Linked DNA regions of Homo sapiens: regions 1, 3 and 4 are each linked to region 2. The links come from fine-mapping of genetic effects on gene expression. A gene starts in region 2. Each other region holds a variant in brackets. All regions are shown on one strand. Distances are from middle to middle.

The links. PIP is the estimated chance that this variant, and not a neighbour inherited with it, causes the effect.
Region 1: its variant is fine-mapped to the expression of NCALD in whole blood (INTERVAL, PIP 0.95).
Region 3: its variant is fine-mapped to the expression of NCALD in whole blood (TOPMed, PIP above 0.99).
Region 4: its variant is fine-mapped to the expression of NCALD in whole blood (TOPMed, PIP above 0.99).

Annotation. Positions count from the first base shown.
Region 1 is chr8:102,141,024-102,146,177 of GRCh38, reverse strand. No RefSeq gene overlaps it. Among named protein-coding and RNA genes, the nearest start is that of MIR5680, 18 kb to the right of the region's middle. The variant CAAAA/A (reference allele first, on the strand shown) is at 2,479.
Region 2 is chr8:101,788,746-101,793,899 of GRCh38, reverse strand. NCALD (neurocalcin delta) reads left to right here and starts at 2,931. Exons shown (of 4, transcript NM_032041.3): 1 at 2,931-3,038.
Region 3 is chr8:102,120,275-102,125,428 of GRCh38, reverse strand. It overlaps a transcript of NCALD not described here. Among named protein-coding and RNA genes, the nearest start is that of MIR5680, 2.6 kb to the left of the region's middle. RefSeq lists silencers at 1,093-1,152, 1,523-1,712. The variant G/A (reference allele first, on the strand shown) is at 2,089.
Region 4 is chr8:101,982,274-101,987,427 of GRCh38, reverse strand. It overlaps LOC104054148 (a long non-coding RNA gene), which reads right to left and starts at 2,996. Exons shown (of 5, transcript NR_126152.1): 1 at 2,052-2,996; 2 at 1-227. It also overlaps a transcript of NCALD not described here. RefSeq lists an enhancer at 2,672-2,861. The variant G/A (reference allele first, on the strand shown) is at 2,676.

The DNA.
Region 1 (5,154 bases), 350 kb before region 2:
TTCTAAGAATTACAATATACATTTCTAACCTTTTGTTTTATAATAATAATTAACATTTTATCACTTTGGGTAAAATATAGAGACTTTTGAACCTTATAGCTTCCTTTATTCTTCACCATTTATGTTACAATTTTCACATGTATTAATCTATATACATTGAAAACCCTACCAGACAATGTTATAGTTTCTACTTTTGACAGTCATGCATATTTTAAAAACACTTAAAAGGGGAAAATTATCTATTATACATTTTTATCATAAACATAACCTGATTTAAATCGCACAACCTGAAATTCATTGTTTCCTTTCTTTCTGTTTCCCCTTCCTACTTTCTAAGATTTGTGGAAACACTGAGCTCAACCTGTCGTTACTCAAATCTTTACTATTTTTGTTTCCTATTTTATGCAACATCCAAGTTAAATAGCCTCTCTCTTATGACACTGTTGATGGGAATGTAAATTGGTGCAGTCTCTTTTGAGGACAATTTAACTCTGCTTATCCTATTTGTAAAATGCATAGTCCTTTTGATCCAGCAATTCTAATTCTATGAATTTATCTTACAGGTATGCTATGGTCTGAATGTTTGTGTCTCCTCAAAATTCATGTGGTAAAATCTGAATCCCCAAAGTGATGGTAGTAGCAGGTGGGGCCTTTGGGAGGTGATTATGTAATGAGAATGGAGCCCTCAAGAATGGAATTAATGTTCTTATGGAAAGAACTCATAAGAGAACTCTTGCCGCACCATGTGAAGACACAGCAAGTAAGTGTCATCTATGAACCAGGAAATGGGCCCTCACTAGACACTGAATTTAATGGCAGTTTTATCCAAGACCTCTTAATCTCCAGATCTGTAAGAAATAAATTTCTGTTGTTTATAAGCTACTCAGTCCATGGTATTTTGTTGTAGTAGCCCAAAAGGACTAAGAGAAGGTATTGTCATATGTGCCCAAGATTTATGTACAAAAGTATTCATTATAACATTGCTTATAATAGTAGAGGGCTGGAAACTCATTTAAATATCCGTCAATCAGGAACTGGTTAAATAAATCATATTATAGCCATACAGTGAAAGACTCTGCAGCCATAAAAAATAAAGAGAACCATGTGCACACATATGGAACCATCTCCAGACATATTGTTAAGCATAAGAAAGTAGGGGCTACAGAATGTTGTGTATAGTATTCTCTCATACATATGCTAATAGATGCATAGAATATTTATGAAACATTTTATAAGAAATGTGTTACTGCATCTGAAAAGGAAGGGATTAGGGAATTGGGAGCATTAGTGGCATAAGGTATAAGGAAGACCTACTTTTTAACATATTCCCTTTTGTATTGTCTAATTTTTTAAAAACCATATGCAAGTATTTTTTCAGTTTGAAATAATAAACGAGACTCTCACTTCTGGCCATAGTCAAGTAACAGAGATTAAATTTACCTTCTTGCCCCAATCGTCTAAAAAACAAGCACAAGTATATGAAAATGACAGTTATCACATACAGAACAGAAAGCACAGGAGAGTGATCTCCCAGAGAAGATAAACAAACAAAAAGAACCTATGATCTACCCCAGCTTACTGCCTGGAGAGTCTCCAGACCAAAGCTCAAGGAGGAGGAACCCAAGTGGAGCTCAAAGCTCTCTCTGACTTGAAGAGACAGAGTTGAGAATTTGGGAGGAGGGGATAAAACACGACTAGAATTTTTAAGGCAGTATGCCTGAGGGAAGAGAGCTTCCCAGAAGGAGAGCTCAAGAGATTCCCGGAGTTCTGGAGACTTCAGCTAAGTATTGCTTACAGCACGAATGTGAAGAAAACGAGGCTGGGGAAAGAACCACCAGAAGAAAAACAGGTGGAACAATCCCTAGAGTTCACACAGAGATGAAAATAATTCATGTTGCCCCAAGCCAGGGTGGAAAAACCTTGCAATACACAGGGCTTTGGGCAGGGTAGTTAAAAGTGTTAGCCTTGGTAGTAGAGAAAAAATTAGGCCTGGAATAAATACTTCTCTTGTCCTGCCAAACATAGCTTAAGAGGATCAAACTGTTACCAAGTTACTTAAAACTCCAGACTATTTAAAGGAATTTAAAGATACCTATAACCCAGAATAGTAAAATTCACAATGTCTGGCATCCAATAAAAATTTTCAGGCATATGCAAAGGAGAAGGAAAACATAATTTACAATGAGGATAAAAATTAAACTATACAAACAGACCTAGAAATGATGAAGGTAATAGAATTAGTAGACAAGTATATCGAAGTAATCATTATAAATATATTCCAGTATGTTCAAGAATATAGAAGAAAAGTATTCATGTCAAGGAGAGACACAGAAAATATATGAAGACTCAAAGTGAAATTTTAGAGATGAGAGATACATTGGACAGGATTAAAACAGATTAGACACTGTAGAAGAAAAGATTACTGAACCTGAAGACATAGCAATAGAAAATAAAGCAAAACACAGAAAAAACACTGAC[CAAAA/A]TAAATAAATAAATAAATAAATAAATAAATAAATAAATAAACAGAGCCATCAGTGAACTGTGGGACAACTTTAAGTAGCCTAATACATGTGTATTTTGAGTCCTCAAAGTAGAGGTGTGTGTGTGTGGTTGAGTACGATATTGAAAAACTAATGACTAAAAGTTTTTCAAATTTGATGAAAAACTTACAGATTGAAAAAACTAAATAAACCTCACATACAAGAAACCTGAGGAAAACTACACGATGGCACATCTTAAGTTTCTTGAAACTACTGATTAAAAGAAATACCTTAAAATTAGCCAGAAAAAAAAAAGACACACAATGGATAGAACAAGTATGAGAGCAGACTTCCTGTTGGAAATAATGCAAGCAGAAGACAGTGGATCATCTTTAAAGTACTAAAAGAAAAACTGTCAACCATTTTGACAATAGAATTTTATACATAGCAAAAATTAATGTCAAAAATGAAAGCAAAATAAAGACTTTTTCAGACATATAAACTGTGAAAGAATGTATTAATAGCAAACTTGCTGCAGAAAGTGTTAAAGGAAGTACTTCAGGTGAAGGCAAATGATACCAAATGGAAATCTGGATCTATTTAAAGGACTGAAGAATACCAGAAATGGAAAATATGTGGGTACATATCAGATATATTTTTCTTATTTTTTAAATATCTTAAAATATAAGTGACCATTTTAAACAAAAATAATGCCATTAGGTTGTGTGGTTTATAACATATGTAAAAGTAAAATGTATAAAAACAGTACAAAGGCTGAGAAGGGGAAATATAACTGCATTGTTGTAATGTTACGCAATATGTGAAGTGGTATATTACTACTTGAGTGTATATTATTATTAATTGAGGGCATATTATTACTATGATAGAGTCATCACTAAAAAAGGCATTCAGTAACAAAATAACTAAAGCCATCACTAAAATCACAAAAGCAATCATATAAAATAAAAGAAGGTGTAGCTAATGAGTCAACAAAGAAAATAAAATGGAATAATAAAAAATAAAGAGGCAGAAAACAACAAAATAGGAACTGAGGTGACAAATAATAAACAAGGAACAAAATGGTAGATTTAAACCCACACATATCTGTAATCATATTAAATGGAAATGATCTAAGCATTAATTAAAAGGCAGAGATTGTCGGACAGGATAAAAAGGCAAAACTCAATGGTATCCTGCTTAAAATAAACCAAATTTAAATATAATAATACAAATTTGCTAAAAGTAAAAAGATTAAAAATATATGATGCTACTACTAATAAAACAAAGCTGGAGTGACTACATTAATATTGGACAAAGTAGATTCAGAGCAAAGACTATTACTAGGAGTAATGAGGATCATTTCATCATGACACACTGGTCAATTAGAGAACATAAACATTTTAAATGTCTATGCACCTAATAACAGAGCTTCAAAATGCATGAAGCAAAATACATGAGAGAACTTCAAGGACAAATAGACAAATTCACAATTACAGTCAGAGATATCAATACCCCTCCCTCAAAACATTTCTAACTTCCCTTTAAACTTCTTTAACCAATAGGTAATTTATAAATGTGTTGTTTAATTTCTGAATATTGGGAGACTTAAATTCCAAATATTTCCAGGTGTGGTGGCTCACCCCTGTAATCCCAGCACTTTGGGAGGTGGGTGGATCCCGAGGTGGGTGGATCACCTGAGGTCAGGAGTTCAAGACCAGCCTGGCCAACATGGCAAAACCCTGTCTCTACTAAAAAAATACAAAAATTAGCCAGGTGTGCTGGTGTGCACCTGTAATCCCAGCTACTGGGGAGGCTGAGACAGGAGAATCGCTTGAACCCAGGAGGCAGAGGTTGCAGTGAGCCGAGATCATGCCACAGCACTCCAGCCTGGGCGACAGAGCAAGATTCTGTCTCAAAAAAAAAAAAAAAAAAATCCAAATATTTAGGGATTTTTCTGTGATTGACTTCTCGTTTAATTCTGTTTTATGCTCAGAGAACATATTTTGTATGATTTCAATTTTTTTAAAGTTGGACACAAAATTCCTGACTACTCAACAATCAGCTCTCAAGACTCCAGCATACTGCGATGGCCTCAAGGTTGGTGCCCAGGACCTTCAGCTGCCTGTCAGAAGGATCTTTGCAGAGAACTGCACTTTGTTCTGAGTGCCACATACAAGATACCTAGAGAATGTTTTGAAGGCTTGTAAGATGAACTGCAAAGATGATAAAATGATCAGTGGACACACTGGAAGTTGGAAGATAACTGATCAACTGTCACTGCCAACATTACTGGTCTGCTTCTTCACATCCATACTTTGGAGATGAAGAGTAGTACTGAAGTAGTACTGTGCTATGACAGTGGACAATCCATTTTAATGAAAACCTCTCTACTCCCCTCCACATACTGAAGTTGTGACTTTGGTGGGGTATGTCAGCGTATCCTTAGCTAGCAAGCATGAGCTATAATCAGACGAAGAGATATTATTAAATACACATGTAGTAGGAAAAAAACATAATCTAGATGTAGGATGTAGAGATATGATCATCCTTGAATGGAGATAAAGGAAGAGACATTTAAAAGCAATAGGTTCCTTTTATAGAGCCTGTAAACTGAAGGGGAAAGAAGAGATCTAAAGGGAAATTCCAAAGTCTTCATTAAGATGTTAGGCTTAAA
Region 2 (5,154 bases):
GTTCAGGTGTGTGAGCCCAGGTCAGACTGCTTGTTTAGTGGCATTTACCAGTTATTTCTGGCAAAGTGGTCAAACTAATAATAGGCAGCCTTGACATTTTTACAAAGAGTGAAAAATAAGATGCAGAACTATTTTTGAATGGATATTTTTAAATTTGGTGAATCATTTTCACCTTAAAAAATGACTTGTCAATTAGAAAATAAAATGGCACATATTCTCTTCAGTGTAGTGGGCTGTGATTGGAGAAAGCTCTCATGTGTATTTCCTGTGATACTTTCAACTACATTTGGGTTAATTAACCAAATTGGTAGGAATCTGAGCTCTAAAGAGATCACCATCATGCCTTCAACCTCACAGAAGACTGGTAGCTTCCTTCACTCTAAGAGGAAATTCTAAACCTAGGTAGTTTGCAAAGGAAAATGAGTAGGTAGGCAAATTACTTAATCTCTCTCTTCAGTTTCTGGTTGAAGCATGTTGTAGAAAAAAAGGGCTACATGCACCCACTTTTCATTTTGAAGGTCAGTTCACTGCATTTTTTTTTTTTTTTTTTGAGACGGAGTCTCACTCTGTCACCCAGGCTGGAGTGCAGTGGCATGATCTTGGCTCACTGCAACCTCCACCTCCCAGGTTCAAGCGATCCTCCTGCCTCAGCCTCCTGAGTAGCTGGGAATACAGGCATGTGCCACCATGCCTGGCTAATTTTTTGTATTTTTAATAGAGACGGGGTTTCACCGTGTTAGCCAGGATGGTCTTGATCTCCTGACCTTGTGATCCACCGGCCTCAGCCTCCCAAAGTGCTGGTATTACAGGCGTGAGCCACCATGCCCAGCCAGTTCACTGAATATTTTAATAGTTCACTGAATATTTTAATACTGCCCAAGGCAGTATAAAGTATACTTAGTCTTAAAAATGCTAAACCAGTCAAAGTAAAAGTGTTGGTTTTTTGCTAATTTTCAAATTAATCCATTTAAAGTCCTGAATTTTAGGCATTTTTTTTTTTTTTTAGAACTGAGAACTTCTTATTTCAGAAGACATCACCTATTAGCAGAATGTGGCACTGCAGTTTTTCTCTCTTAAATGCTAAAGCTGCATAAAGAGGAGGAAGAATTAATTAGGCAGCTATGGATTAGAGCCAGAGAGATGGTAAATTAAGCAGCTCAGAGAACGTGGGTCCAGGGAAAGCTAGAAGGGTATGTTTCTCTGCCTCTTCCGGTTCCCTCATTTGTATGATGTGCATTTCTGAACATAAAAGCAGAACAATAATTGGAACAAATTGTCAGTTTATGAATTGTGGCTGTTGGTGAAATCTGCCCCTAGTGAGGCTTTAGGTAGACATTGGATTCCATTGTCCTTGTTCAAACAGGTAAATTCCCAGCTGTCATTAATCTGAAATTAAAGGAGGAAAGTTCCTTATAGTTTGATTTCGGTTTTGCAGTGCCACAGCTAATCGCATCAGGAAAATAACTTTTTAAATAAAAATCTATCTTTTCTCCCAATTGGGGCTGGGACAGAAATAAAGGAAGATGAAAAGGAGGATGGAGTAGGACGATTCTATGACCAAGTGATTTGAACATTAGTCTTATTATTAAAGAAGCAATTTCTGATTCTACTAAAGAAATTTCATTCTTTTACAGTGACACAAATGTAATCTGCCTGGCTGACTTAGGTTCCATTTATATTTTGTAGCACCCCAGAGCTACTCTTTTTTATTTATTTATTTATTTTAAGAAACAGAATAGAAGTCGTTATAAGCCTAGCATATAAAGGTCCTTAGGGTTTTGAGGGCAGTCTCTTCTCCCCTGCCTTTTAACTCCTTGTCCTTTGTTTGGGCATACATTTTCTGAATGTCTTTTTCAGAGTACCTTCTTGTGAGTTTCATTGATTTTGTTTAATCGGCTTCCCATTAATTAAGAAAGAGAATTAACTGGGAAATAGGCACGTGTGCAGAGTTAAAAGTAAGCTAGGGTCGTCGTAAAGGAAATAAAGCTGATGTTAGAAAACATGTGAGATAACCCTTTCATTCTATGGCTCTGGGCTTTCATTACACTTTGTGTTTGTGGAACACTGGCCCTGTTTACTCAATGTTGAGTCTCAGCAAAGGGGTGTGGATGAGAGGACTCAAGAGGGGAGCATTTGGCACCCGTATGGCCCCAAAGCACAGTTTTCAGCTTACTCACATGGTTATTTTAAAGTAACACTGTTTTGAAACTCCTTCGGTCCTCATTTTTACCTAGACATTTTACAGTACAGGAATCCTGAATTTATGTTATCTGATGTCTACATCCTACTTGGTGTCAGGATCATTAGACTGTCTTACCTGTCTCTGAGTCATAAGCCACTGTCATGAACCCAAGCCACTGTTTTTTATTTTTCTTTCCATCACAAGCATGGTCTCAGTATATCCATGTAGACTCTGATATAGTTTTTAAAATACATTTTCTTCCAACCCCTCCCCCTGAGCTTCTGTTTTTATATATTTGCTTGCAAATAAGTTTAATTGGCTAAGAAAACTACTCCAGAATTTTTCAGTTTCTTTCCTTTTGTTATAGAGAAAGAGAGAGAGAGAGACATGCTTCATGCTGATGGTAGTGAAACAAATGAGAACTTCAGGGTGGCATATATTTTCCTGCAAGTAACTGTAGAGAAAAGACACCAAAGCCTTAAAGAGGAAAGTTGTAGGCATTCTGGAGTCACAACTTCGGGGGTTGAGGTTGTCAAGGAGCTGTCCGTGATGGTTCTATGGTGTGTGCGTACACACATACTCTCTCTCTCACACACACACACCACAGTGACAGATGACCTATTGAAATAATTTCAGAGCCGGTCTGTGGTTGCTACGACAACCAATGATCTCTTGGCTTTCATCTGGCCATGTGACAGGGACTTTGACGTCAGCTAGAGGCAGAGTCTGTGGCTGAGTCCACACAGTCAAAGGCTTGTGAGAATCTGGTGGATGCTGGACCTTGCTGCTGCTGCTACTGCTGTTTCCAGGGGCTGCAGAGCATGGACTGTTAAATCTTGCACTTCTTCTGAGTGAGGTAATTAGTTTGCTTTATATACAATAGTTAGATGTTTTTATAGCTCATTGTGGTTTTCCCCTCTCTCTTACCTCCTACAAGTTTGTATTCATGAGCAATTATTGTTGTACCAAGGGGAAAATGTGAAGCAGCTTCTAGTTGTGAATTTCAGGCAGGTTCTCTGGAATTTGGTTAAATTTGGATTAATGTTTTGTGAAGTAGGTTAAAATATAATCGTCTTGCTTGCTCAACACTTGCTAACATAACATTATTTAGACATACGGATTTTGCAGCTTGAGCCAAATATTCTCTCTTGAATTCCAGGAATCCTCCCTTCAGTATTGTTTTGGGTTTAAAAACTCCAGCATAGCCTTGCAATGTGTTTCTAACTTTTCTTTTTACAATTGCTACTCAATTCTGAATCAGCCTAAAATAGTTTGGAATTTGGTTTCTATCTTGTTTGCAGCATTCATATTTAGCAACAATAGGAACCACGGGAAATAACATTATAACTGAAACAAAAGTTGGGATTTTGCTTGTAAGTAAAACCTTTGGTATTCTGAAAGTACCAGGAAAAATTGTCAACAGTTTCCTGTTTAGAGAGAAATAATCGGGAATATGCCAAGGAAGTTGGGGTGGAACCTTTTACATGTGTGCATGCAATTGCTTTTTGGTTGTTAGAGCAAAGTGCATATTTCCAGTATCCTCCCCTGAAAATTCAGCTGTGAAGAGAATGGCATGAGGTGGTCTTTACTAAGGAGTCATGTAAGCTGTTGTTATTTTTAAAAATCGTCATAATTACCTAAAGAAAAAAACAATAGCCCTAAAATGAAAAGTATCATTGACACAAGTTCTACTTTAACTCAAACACAGATAGAAGTAGTCACTCACAATTTGCTCTGGATCTTAAATGAATAATTTGATAACTGTGATTAATAAGAATTTTTATCTCTTTATTCCTATAATACTATTTACTACAAATTGTTTTCTTTGTATTGTAGTTCCTTTCCTTCCCAAGTTTAGTAATTTCAGATTTTCTTTCATGACATACAGGTTGAATTGTTTTGGAGCTTCTAATTTAAAGAATACCTGTAGTACTGAAGTTAGCCAAAGTCTAGATTTATAACCAGGTGTCTAAATCTTACAAGTTTAACAGAAAAAGGGGCAAATTTTAGAGCACTACATGTAATACAGCTAGTATTTTAATTAGTAGAAGAAACTGGTTTAACTGTATATATGAATACCATATATTCACAGTGTGTGAATTATATCGTAATTTAGTGCAAGAATATATTGTTTTAATTTTTATGTTCTTTATTAGTTTCAGAATTCTAATAGCATTTATTTTACTCTTGGAGGTGAAAAATTTTGAACAGTATTTAGCTACAGTAATAAGTGAATAACTGTGGGTATATCAATAATTTCTCAGTAGCTTTCAATGAGTGAATATTCATTTAACTTGCTGGCATTTGACATGTCTGTTTTTGGTCAGGGTCTCCGTGGAGGATTTTCCAAAAGTCTAATGTGCTTTCATTCCAGGCACATCTACTGAGACATAATCTCATCACTTAATTGATCTCAAAATTATAATAACCCAGAGGCCATATTCTTAACACCCCTAGAAAAATGATAATTTATATGTAACATTTCAGTTGAGCACAGATAAGACCAGTAGCACCGTCATTTAACAGCACTATCTTTGATGAGGTACACTTTGACATTTACTTCTTTTACTCAAAATGTGGAATTATCATTATAGTTTTTCCAGGTAGCAGAGATTTTCTTGGTGCTGTCTCTATGACATTTTAAATTAAAGTCTTATAATAATTGTATTCAATGCTCTTTCAAAATAGACTATATTTCAGCGGTATGAAATACAAGAGAATAATTCAGCGTTGATGGCAAAATCTCAATGATGAAGTTTATCACTAAAAGAAAACAACCTATGCTGTGAAAGCAGAGATGCTCTAGAATCTACAGGTCTTTTCCTATGGGAAAATAAGAGAAAAAAAGACTGTCATCAGAATCATTTTACAGCATTGAGACTATGTTGATTTCAAGGTCATGTTTGTTGCAGCTTCAAAAGATGCTGGCAAGGAACGAGGTACTCTAGAAACCTGGCTGTTGCATTATTAAA
Region 3 (5,154 bases), 330 kb before region 2:
CAAAGGTTTTAGTATTTGATGATGGTTTAACAGCCTCCTAGATAATTTTTGTTTTACAATTGAAGGCAACCGGTAGAGCTAGGAAAGGGTGCTTTTGATTAGATGAAACTTTTACTTGGTGTTTAAATCAGAGTTGGCAGCTGTCTGGACCTCAATGTAACTGTCCTTTCTATAACCAGTCATGTTAAAAGATTTTGCAAACATTACAACGAGGAAGGCCAGGTCACGGTGCCTTTGCAGCCTTGTTATTTTTAAGCAGCAACTTTTTAAATTGATGAATTTGAGTTGCTCTTGAGACCTTCTGCGGGTTCTGGAAATGTCACCAGGGTTGACAAGCACAAGGAGTTAGTTACAGTGGCTTTTTGAGAGGCCATGAGTGGACGACACAGCAAGACAGGAAACAGGTGCTGGCAGCCAGCAGGTACTCGATAAATATTGGGTGAATGAATTGACAAGACATTTTGCTTCTCATTATCTCCACACGAGATGAAAAATTTGAGGGGAGGAAGGAGGGGCAGGAGAGGGGCCCCTTAGATGTCTTCCTCCGGATTTTTTGTTAAGCTTTTCCTAGACAGTTTACAGAAGGCTTTGGGTAGAGAAAGCACTAGTTAGACAAAAGCAGCCCCCCTCCCACCTTGTGGGCATGAAGAGTCCAGAGGACACCACCTGAGAAGCTTTTCAACTGCCTTCCAAGGCTCCCTTGAACTTCACTGCGGTAGAGCAGGGACCCCAGACCCCCCCTCAAATCGAAGCTTGGAAGGAGGTGCTCTAGGCTGAATCTGACCTCCCAGGACCCGAGGAGGCAAGCAGATGGCACCCCTTGGAAAGTAGCAGTGCAGGCTGGCTAGAGGCCTGGGCGGTGAGCTAGGACTATGGGGCACCGTGGGGACACGCCCGGAGGCTGCACCAGGGCAAGCGGGGGAGGGGGGGGGCGTCCACTGCACCTGCAAATCCCGCGCCTCATCTTGGCCCCCCTGCAACCCCGCGGTGAAGCCCACGCCGGAGAGGCTGCCTGCGGGGCTGCAGTGGAGAGGGGGTCTGCGGCCGCGAGGAGGGAGGCGGCGAGCCAGGCTGGGGAGGGGGGCGCGGCTGGCGACGGTGCTGTCCAGGGGGAGGCGGGCGGAGGGAAGGCGCTGCCGCTGCTGCCGCCGCCTCGCCCGAAGCGACACAGACGCTGGGAGCGGCCGAGGCGGTGAGTCGCAGCGCCTTCCCTCCGCTTCTCGGGAGCCAGAGCGGAGTCGGAGTTGCAGCCGGGGCGGGTGTGCCGGGGGCGGCTGCTGGGGGGGACCCGTGCGCTCGGTGCGCCGCGGGCGCAGGGGTGGGTTCGAGGAGCGCGCGGTTCTGGGAACCTGGTTCCAGCAGCTCCCTCCTGGGTGCAGTTCACCCTGTCAATTCCTCTGTCATTCCCCCAGTGCCTCTGAGGGAAAACAAAACAAAATTACAGACCTTGAGGGTGGGCGGCAGAAAAGGAGAGAGCAACTTTGCAGAGGGCCGCGCAGAGGCGCGTGGGGCCGGCGGGATGGGGCGCGCTGGGCAGAAGGGGGCGTTGGTGAGCCTGGCGGCCCGGGGACCTCTGGAGCATCCCGCCCCGGGGGCCGGGGCCGGGGCCGGGGGCCGGGGCACCCGCTGGATCCCGGGCCTGCGGAGTCTGCCCGGAAAGGCCACAGGAGGCGAGTGCGGGGCGTGGGCGTCTGGGGAGGGGGCCAAGGGAGAGGCCGAAAGGCGCTGGTTGAACACGGACGAGGAAGTGGTCTGCATTTTGGACTCAGGACCTGAAAGATTCGTGTCCCTTGCGCTCGAGGACTTGGGAAGGGTGTGCTGGGGAGATGTGTTTGAGTGTTTTTCAGTGCATACCGATTTATTTTTAGCTCCCAGAGAAGCAGGATGTGCAAAGTGGGTTGTATCAGCCCGGGAGGGGCAGGAGGTCTCCCTGTCCGCAGGAAATACACAAGTTTTTTTTTTTTTTTTCTAATGCTGCAGATGCTTGCTTTAACTTTTGTGCATGGAGAAAGAATGCCATTTGGCTCTGCAGAGCTCCTGCCAGGGTCAGTTTCTTCCTGCGGGTCTGTCGGAGGCCGCAGGCGAGGC[G/A]GCTGGTGTGCTGCTGTGCTTACACGCTAGCCCCGCAAGAAGGTCTATGTTCTGTTCCGTAGGGCAGCTACGGTGAAACACAGAAGTAGGCAGCCAAGGTCTCACTCTCTCAGAAGGAAACCACACAAGCTCGCTCAAAGTTTTCCTACTTCTGGCTGATTTGAAAATAACAGACCTAAGCCACTGTATTACCAAGAGCAGAGTTTGCTGTCAGGGGTTTCTCAGACCTAAGTGGAAATGCTTGTGAGGTTTTTCACTCCAATTGGGAGATCCCCGTGTTTTATGGCCAAAGGCCTTGATGCAGACTACAAAGGAGAGGGGGTGTGGTGTGATGGTGGGAGTGTGGGTACTTGCGGTAGCGGGGCAAGGACAGATCTGGGGAGGAGGCTCAAGAAACTGAAATTCACATGTTTACCTACCCAAGCCAGATCTCTGGAAATTGTCCTGGAGTCTCCCCTGTCTCAACCATTCAGTGTCCAGTCCTGTAGACCCTCTGTCTGTAACTGTATTAGGAGAGTTGCCAATATGGACATTAGGAGTGTGGGCTCTGCAGCCAGACAGCCGGGTTTGAGCTGTGGCTCATTCGTCAATAGCTCCTGGATCTTGGGGTCCTTACTTAACCTCTACTGTGTTTTCTGATGTGAGGCATGAGGTTGATAATAGATAACAAAGCTATCTCAGGGTTACTGTGAAGATAAAATGAGTTAATACCCAGAAAGCACTAAGCATCATGCCTTGTTGTAAGTGCTGCATAAATGTGAGCTCTTATTATTTTTGTTGTTGTTGCTATACGCCCTCTTCTCTCAGTTCCTGCTGTCACTGACTTAGTTCATATTCTCAGCACTTCTTGCCTGAATTGTTCCAATTGCTTTTGAGCTTGTTGTTCCCAATCAGGACCGTCTTACTCCAGTCCATTCTCCAAACTGTGGACACTCATTCCAAAAACAAAAATCTAAGCCAGTCATTCTGCTTAATTTCCTTTAGAGGTTTTCTGTGGTTTTCAGGATAGAATTCACACTCCAGGGACTTTCACGGTCCCACCCTTCTCTCTTCATTAACCTCATCTCCCAAGCCTCCCCCCACGTAGCCTCTGCTCAAGCCACTGAGTCGCAGCATCTATCATCTCCCCAACCTTCCTTGTCTGGTCAACTCCTATGCATTCTTGGCAGCTCAGCTGCTGCGACACTGCCTTCCAGCAGGCTGCATGGCACTCCCCCTCCCAGAGGTGCCATGCTACCCTGGATGTAGCCCTCGCATCATTCTGCACCATTATCTATGTATCTTTCTATGTACATTATCTATGTATCTATGTATCAAGGCACCTGCATGTGCCTTGAGAGATGGATTCTGATTGTAGGTACATGTTTGTTGAATGAATAAACAAACATCAGTCAAACAAAATCCAGTCCTTTTCACTAAAGCCAGAATCAAACACAGAGAATAATAGACAGAGAGGAGGACCAAACCAAGCTTTATATCTAACACTCTACGATAAAAAACCTTGGGAAATACTAAGGAATCAAGAGTTGGTCAAAAGAAATGTGGCATACTGTCTTGAAACTGATGGGATCCTTGCCCTCGAGGTGTGTCCTTTTAATGGTGAGGGGCAGACTAACAATGAAGAAATGTAACGATCTGAACCCTTCTCTTTCCTTACTTCTCTCATGAAAAGGTCAGGCATCTCAGATGTGGCTGTAGGGGATGGAGGTCCAATTTTTTGAAAGGGTTGTGCAGTGAATTTGGTTCTGGAGGCAGAGGTGAAGTTTATAACACACATGGGTTTTATAGCTTTTCCTTGAATTATGTATAGCATCCCTCAGAATGTGAATTTCAGATTGCCTGGTATTGGTATGATAACAGGAAATCTGCAGTCACCAAAGCTCTTTTGTTACTTTTTGGACTATTCAGTATGTTCAGAGGGTACTTTTCTGACTCAGGCACCCACTCCAAGCTCTCCAACTCCTGGGGTCCCAGGAAGTTGCACGGGAAGATAAGAGCTGCTGCTTCCCTGAGGCAGCCCCAGAGTCTGGCTTCAAAGCTCTAGAGAAGGGATTTTTGTACAACCGAGAGCAAAGAATGAGCTTTATATTTTTAAAGCGTTGTAAACAAAAACACAACACAACACAACAAAACACGGAGAAGAATATGTGATAGGGACCATGTCTAAAATACTTACTACTTAGCTCCTTATAGGAAAATTTTGCCAACTGTTGCAATGAAGCTGAGACATATTGGTTTCATATTGCACATCATCTGACTGGCTGCCTGGAAATCTGGGTCCAGTAGGAATCCAAGGCTGGGTCTGGGCTCAGCAAGAAAGTGTGCTGTGGTCAACTAGTGATGTCTGTCTGCTAGGGAATGGGATTAGGGAATAGTCTTTACCATTCCTATCCTAGAGAATATCATTTGCGGATAATGAAGACAGAAATCAGGGATAGAGCACATGAGTTAAAAGTCCCTAGAAGGCAGGAACTTTCTACCACAACAATGAACAATCACTGCAGTTAACATTGATATTGGCATTTATTGAGTGTGTACTATGTGGCCCTGGTTTACATGGAATACCTCATTTAACATTTATGATAATTTTTCAGGAGATATTTTACTTAGGACTCAATTCTGTTGTGTCAGGAACCCCAACATTCAAACTGTTTTAGCAAAAAAGGAATGTTATTTTGGCTCTGATAACTCCTCAGTCCAGAGGAAGACATTTCGGATATGGCCTGATTCAGGCCTCAAACATTGTTAGCGGGACCTCATTTCTCTATTTTTCTCAGCTTGCTTTCATGGAGTCGGCACCATTTTTAGTACCATCTCATTGAGGCCCCATCTCGTTGTAGGATGGCTGGAAGAGCTCCAGACCTTACATAGTCTGGGCTTTAAATCCAGCCAGAAAGTGGAAGTCTCCATCCCGGCATTGCTCACAATGACTTACTCTGGCTCGTCAGCATTGATTGGGTCCTGTGTCTATTCCTGTGACCAGGGTGCCACATGTTACTAGGCTTGGGCTTCATCACATGTCACATGTTTCATCCTTAGAGACGGGCTGAGAAATAGGAGCAGGGG
Region 4 (5,154 bases), 190 kb before region 2:
AAAAATGGTTGGATATTACATACATGGACACACCTTTCTCAGTCAGAGGACAAAAGTAGGAAGTTTTTGATTTTGTTCAAGAAGAAAATGTCTGGCAATTTAGGTCACTCTTCACAGGAAAAATTGGCTTTAAAAACATTAATCAAACGTGCACTTTGAAACACTGCTGCTAGTCTGCCCTTCAAAGAGGAGTGCATGTTGAGAAAAGGCAATAGTCGCCCCGTTTTCTGTAGTGGAAAGAATGTTGGAATAGGAGTGAGGAGATCTGAGGTTGAGGCCATTTCTGCTGATTTGGGGGGCTTATCACTTATCCTCTGAGTTTTACTGTCTTCATCTGTGACATGAAGGTTTGCACTAAATACTGTCTATACCTTTCTTCATACATAATAAATTTAAGATAAACCCTCTGTGTAGGTGGCCTTTAAGATCCCATCTGTCCTATGCAGGTGTGATTCCGGGGACCCCCAGCATATCTAGCAGGGCATCAGCAGCACCTCCCTGCTGGAGAGTCTTCGCTCCCCTCACATTCTTATCAACCCCAGCTGGCTGGCTCAAGCTCAAAATTACCTAATTAGCAATTCTTTCCTTAAGATTAAGCACTGGGTGAGACAAAAATATTCCTGGAAGAATCCTTGTTAGCCATTTGCTATAATTATTTAGTTCTATTAACTAATCTAATAAGCATTAATTCAGTATATAAGCTATTAAAGATACTGAGTTGGGCTCTGGGTGTGTGTGGAGTTGGGTGAGGAGGAGTGCAAAGATGCAAGAGAGATGGCCCTGCCCTTGATGCTGGAGAATGGGCAAAGCTGCATAGAGTCAGATGACAGCTGCAAGTGTTGAGTGCTGTACGAGTTTAAATGGAGAGCGGGATTGCTGGCAGCTGCGGTGGGCAGGGATTTTCTCCTTTTTAAAATTGAGATCAGGTTTGAACATGACTTTGCAAGATGGCTGACTGAACAAAAGACACAGGTAAGAGTCTATGGCTTGACGTGAATCAGAGCTTATAGGTGGGAATAGCCAAGGCATGTTCAGAACCAGTTCAAGGCGAAGCCATAGTACCATAAAAGATGGATAAAGAATATCAGAATGTTGTGGGCTGGGCGCGGTGGCTCACGCCTGTAATCCCAGCACTTTGGGAGGCTGAGGCAGGCAGATTACCTGAGCTCAGGAATTCGAGACCAGCCTGGCCAACATGGTGAAACCCCATCTCTACTAAAAATACAAAAATTAGCCAGGCATGGTGGCACCTGCCTGTAATCCCAGCTACTCAGGAGGCTGAGGCAGGAGAATCGCTTGAACCTGGGAGGCGGAGGTTGCAGTGAGCCAAGATCGCGCCACTGCCTGGGCGACAGAGTGATACTCTGTCTCAAAAAAATAGAAAAAAGAAAAGGAAAGGAAAAAAGAAAGAAAGAAAACTGGATTGAGTTCAGTAAACAAAAAGGAATGATCATTTATTTTTGAACAAGCGAGTGATATACCAATGGCAATTTGAGGAATTTTGTGTGGCGGGAGTGTGCAAGATAGTTTTGAGAGGAAAGAGTCCCTAAGGCTTCCAAGTTCCAACCCTTACTCCTTGAATGTTATTAAATGCGTATTTTAAAAATTTGATCTGAAGATCCTTTTGGGAAGAAATGTTGAGTATAAATAGTCTTTCCAGCCAATATAAGCAGCTTGGGAAGAAAAACGAAATGTTTGAGGGATCCTAACGTGAAGGGACAGGGCTTGGAATGCCCGCTGGTTTTCTGGTCCCAGCAACATTAATGTTCATCCTCTTTCTTCCTTTAATTTTTCTAGCCCTTAAAACAGAGTAAAATGTCAAACTGTGAAAGACCACAACTGCTTTTCTTTGTTATATTTAGCCTTTCACAGTTTTTAAAAATATAAAAGCTATAGAATCTGCCTCATCTCTCATTTCTCCATCCTCTCACTGGCTGAGGACATATTTAACAGGTTTCATATTGGAATTACCAGGAAAGTTTGGGCTGTCTATGGCTGCATTACAAATCACCCTTGAGTCTAGGGGCTTAACACAACAATCACTTCCATACCTCACAAATCTCTAATCTGAGCTGGTCCAGGTGGGAGGGCTCAGGTCTGTTCTGCATACCATCAGCTGGGGTGGGTCGAGTGGAGGCTGGGGGGTCCACCTTCAAGACGGCTCACTCACATGACTGGCAGCTGGGAGCTTGGGCTGGGGGTGGGTCATCAGAAGACCCGGGGTGAGGGGAGCCCTGTCTTCTGTCCACGTGCACCCCTCCATGGCTTGTTGGCTTCCACGCAGCATGGCGGCGGAGTTCCAAAGGTGAACATCAGGGGTTGTAATATGCTTTATGTGAGTAACTTGGGTTGTGCTTTGAAAATTTTCACCCTTTGATTAAGGGATAAGGGTAGGCCCTTAAGCTACATAGTTCTTTAAAATCCATGTCCCTGACTCTGGTGTCCTCTGTCACAGGCTACTTAAAGGGCTGGTGTCCATGGGAGGTATTCCAGCTCCCAAAGTGTGTGGGGTGCCTAAGTTCTCAGCAGAGATGGGAAGTTGAGTCACAGTGATGTGAACTGAGGTGATGGTGGGTACCCCCTGGGTAGAGTTGTCTTGGAGAAGCACAGAATCAATCATTAAATACCATTCTCTGTGACTTAAAAGTCAAGTGCTGGGTTTTCACCACTCCCTT[G/A]ATCTTGCTCAAAAGGAAACTTAATCAAGAGAATGTTGCTGTACTCCGCTTGCTTCAAATGGGTTCTGCGTGGCTAAGGTTACATTTGGTAGCTCTTGGCTTGTCTTCAGTTTCAAATGTAGGGTGAGAGAGGATGTTGTTTGGAGAGTCCTCTAAGCCCTCTCTGCTGATGGAAAGAACGTGTTTCAGTGCTTATTGGCCTCCTAAGTTTCTGAGAGTTGTTTTTGAGTCATTTAGAAATAATTAAACTGGGTTAAGCAAATGCTTTTTGCTTCAGAGCTTCAACATTTATTAGTCAGTTGTCCTGTAGAGCAGGTTTTTGCCCTTATTCTTCAAAGCTCAGGCCATTTATTCTATAAGTGATGCTATCTGATGTCACAATGATATATATTGTTATACTGGTATTTATCAAGACTATGTAATGAAACCCTATGTTGGAAGAAGTCTATGTCTATACAATTAGTCTTGAAAGCAGGAGCTCTTTCCATTGGATGCAGTACCTGGAATTGTGGTATATAATATTTTAATTGAATACAGGATGTTTTTGGCATTAAAATCTTTAGGAAGGTTAAAGAGTTAGAAACAGAGAACTGTCCAAGTAATAAGGAGTGAGCCATTTTTATAAACATCCTGTTCCTTAGGTGCTCATGGTTTGTGGAAACCTCAGGTGGAGACATTTCTGAAGATTGCTAGACTGAAAATAATGTCACAGGGTCCAGGCAGGAAACATAGCATATTCGAGCAGGTGATTCAGGAGAGACCTATTTACAAAAGTGTCAGCATGGTTAAAAGAAACTAACAAAGGATGACGAAAGCACCCTGGGAAGCCACTGTAATCCCTAAGCCTGGAGGGGACTGGGTAGGGCACCAAACTCAGATGTGGGAGGTGCCACTGGACATGGGGCTGTGCCTTTCACAGAGGAGCACATCCACCCACCAGGAAGATGGTGGGAAGAGTAAACCCATCAGTTCCTCTTCTTTCTGATCACCTGCCAAGGAGTTCCATTGGCAAACCTCAACCAAAGCCCAGAAAGGCCAGAAGGCCCATTGCTACGTTCCATAAAATTCAGCCTTCTGGGGTACAGAGCAGTGTGGAGAAGGGTAGGGAGTGGATTTGAAGGAGCCAGCGGAAAGTATCCATCACAACACATACACACAACCCTACAGTTTCGGTTAGTTAATGTTTGTTTCACAAAGACAAGCTCATCATGGAGGCCTAAGTTGCATGGGTGAATTTAACATAAGTTTCTCTCTACTAAGAAAAGGGTGAAAATTCAGATTGCATAAAATTCATCCCAAAATATCATTAGCTCTGGGACAAAGAGAATTTGAAACTTCATATTTCTGGCTTGCTTCAGGCCATGGCATAGGGACGGAGTCCTGGGGTTAGGGAACAGGGGAGGGCTAAGGTATTTAGAAATAACCTTTCCTAAAGAAAAGGAAATCTTAGTTCTGTAACAGAAAATAAGCCCTCGGCAGAGCCCCTGAGATGAGCCAGGGGTGGGGAAGAAGAGAAAACATGCCCATCAATTAGGTGACAGCAGCCCTCACTACCTGGTAGCAGAGGGACAGAACCCCAAAGGTAGATGAACTTCTGTGATAAATGTGCTCAAAAGGGAGGACAGTTCTGAGACTCATTCAGCCTGTATCTCAGAAGCATATGTATCTGGTAGAATGTAGCCGCTTGGGGGTCTAGTCACACTGTGGCTTATTTCTTCTTTAAAAATGGAATTGTTTAGACTCTGCATACTCAGTGGGTTTAGGCTGCCTTTTGGTGCTGAAGCTGCCCAAGATGGAAGGGAAGAGCATGTGTCTGCTAAACCCTTCACAGTTTCCAGTGTATGCTAATTTATTCAAGGTCACAGAACATATGTTACATGACAATGGTATAAGGATTTTTTTTTTTTTTTTTGAGATGGGGTCTCGCTCTGTCGCCCAGGCTGGAGTGCAGTGGTGTGATCACGGCTCACTACAGCCTCTGCCTCCCGGGTTCAAGCAATTCTCCTGCCTCAGTCTCCCAAGTAGCTGGGACTACAGGCGTGTGCCACCACACCCAGCTAATTTTTTTGTATTTTTGGTGGAGACGGAGTTTCACCATGTTAGCCAGGATCGTCTCGATCTCCTGACCTCCTGATCCACCAGCCTCGGCCTCTCAAAGTGCTGGGATTACAGGCATGAGCCACCATGCCCAGCTATGGAATTTTTTATGTATGAGAAATCATAGGAATTTTCAAGGCTATACCCTTTTTTTATGAGAAGCCTAACTTCTTGCACAGTGGCTTTCAACATACAAGGTAGGTTCATAGTATTTTATAGTTTATAGTTAGTTTATAGTTATAAAGTGCTTTGTAAACTGTAAAACTTATAGTTTATAGTTACTTCCCATTCAGTCTGCCTTAATTCCTAATATCCAAAAGGAGTTGGTATATGACAAGCTCATGGCACCTGCTTAAAAGCAGTGTCTTAAGCTAGTTTCAAT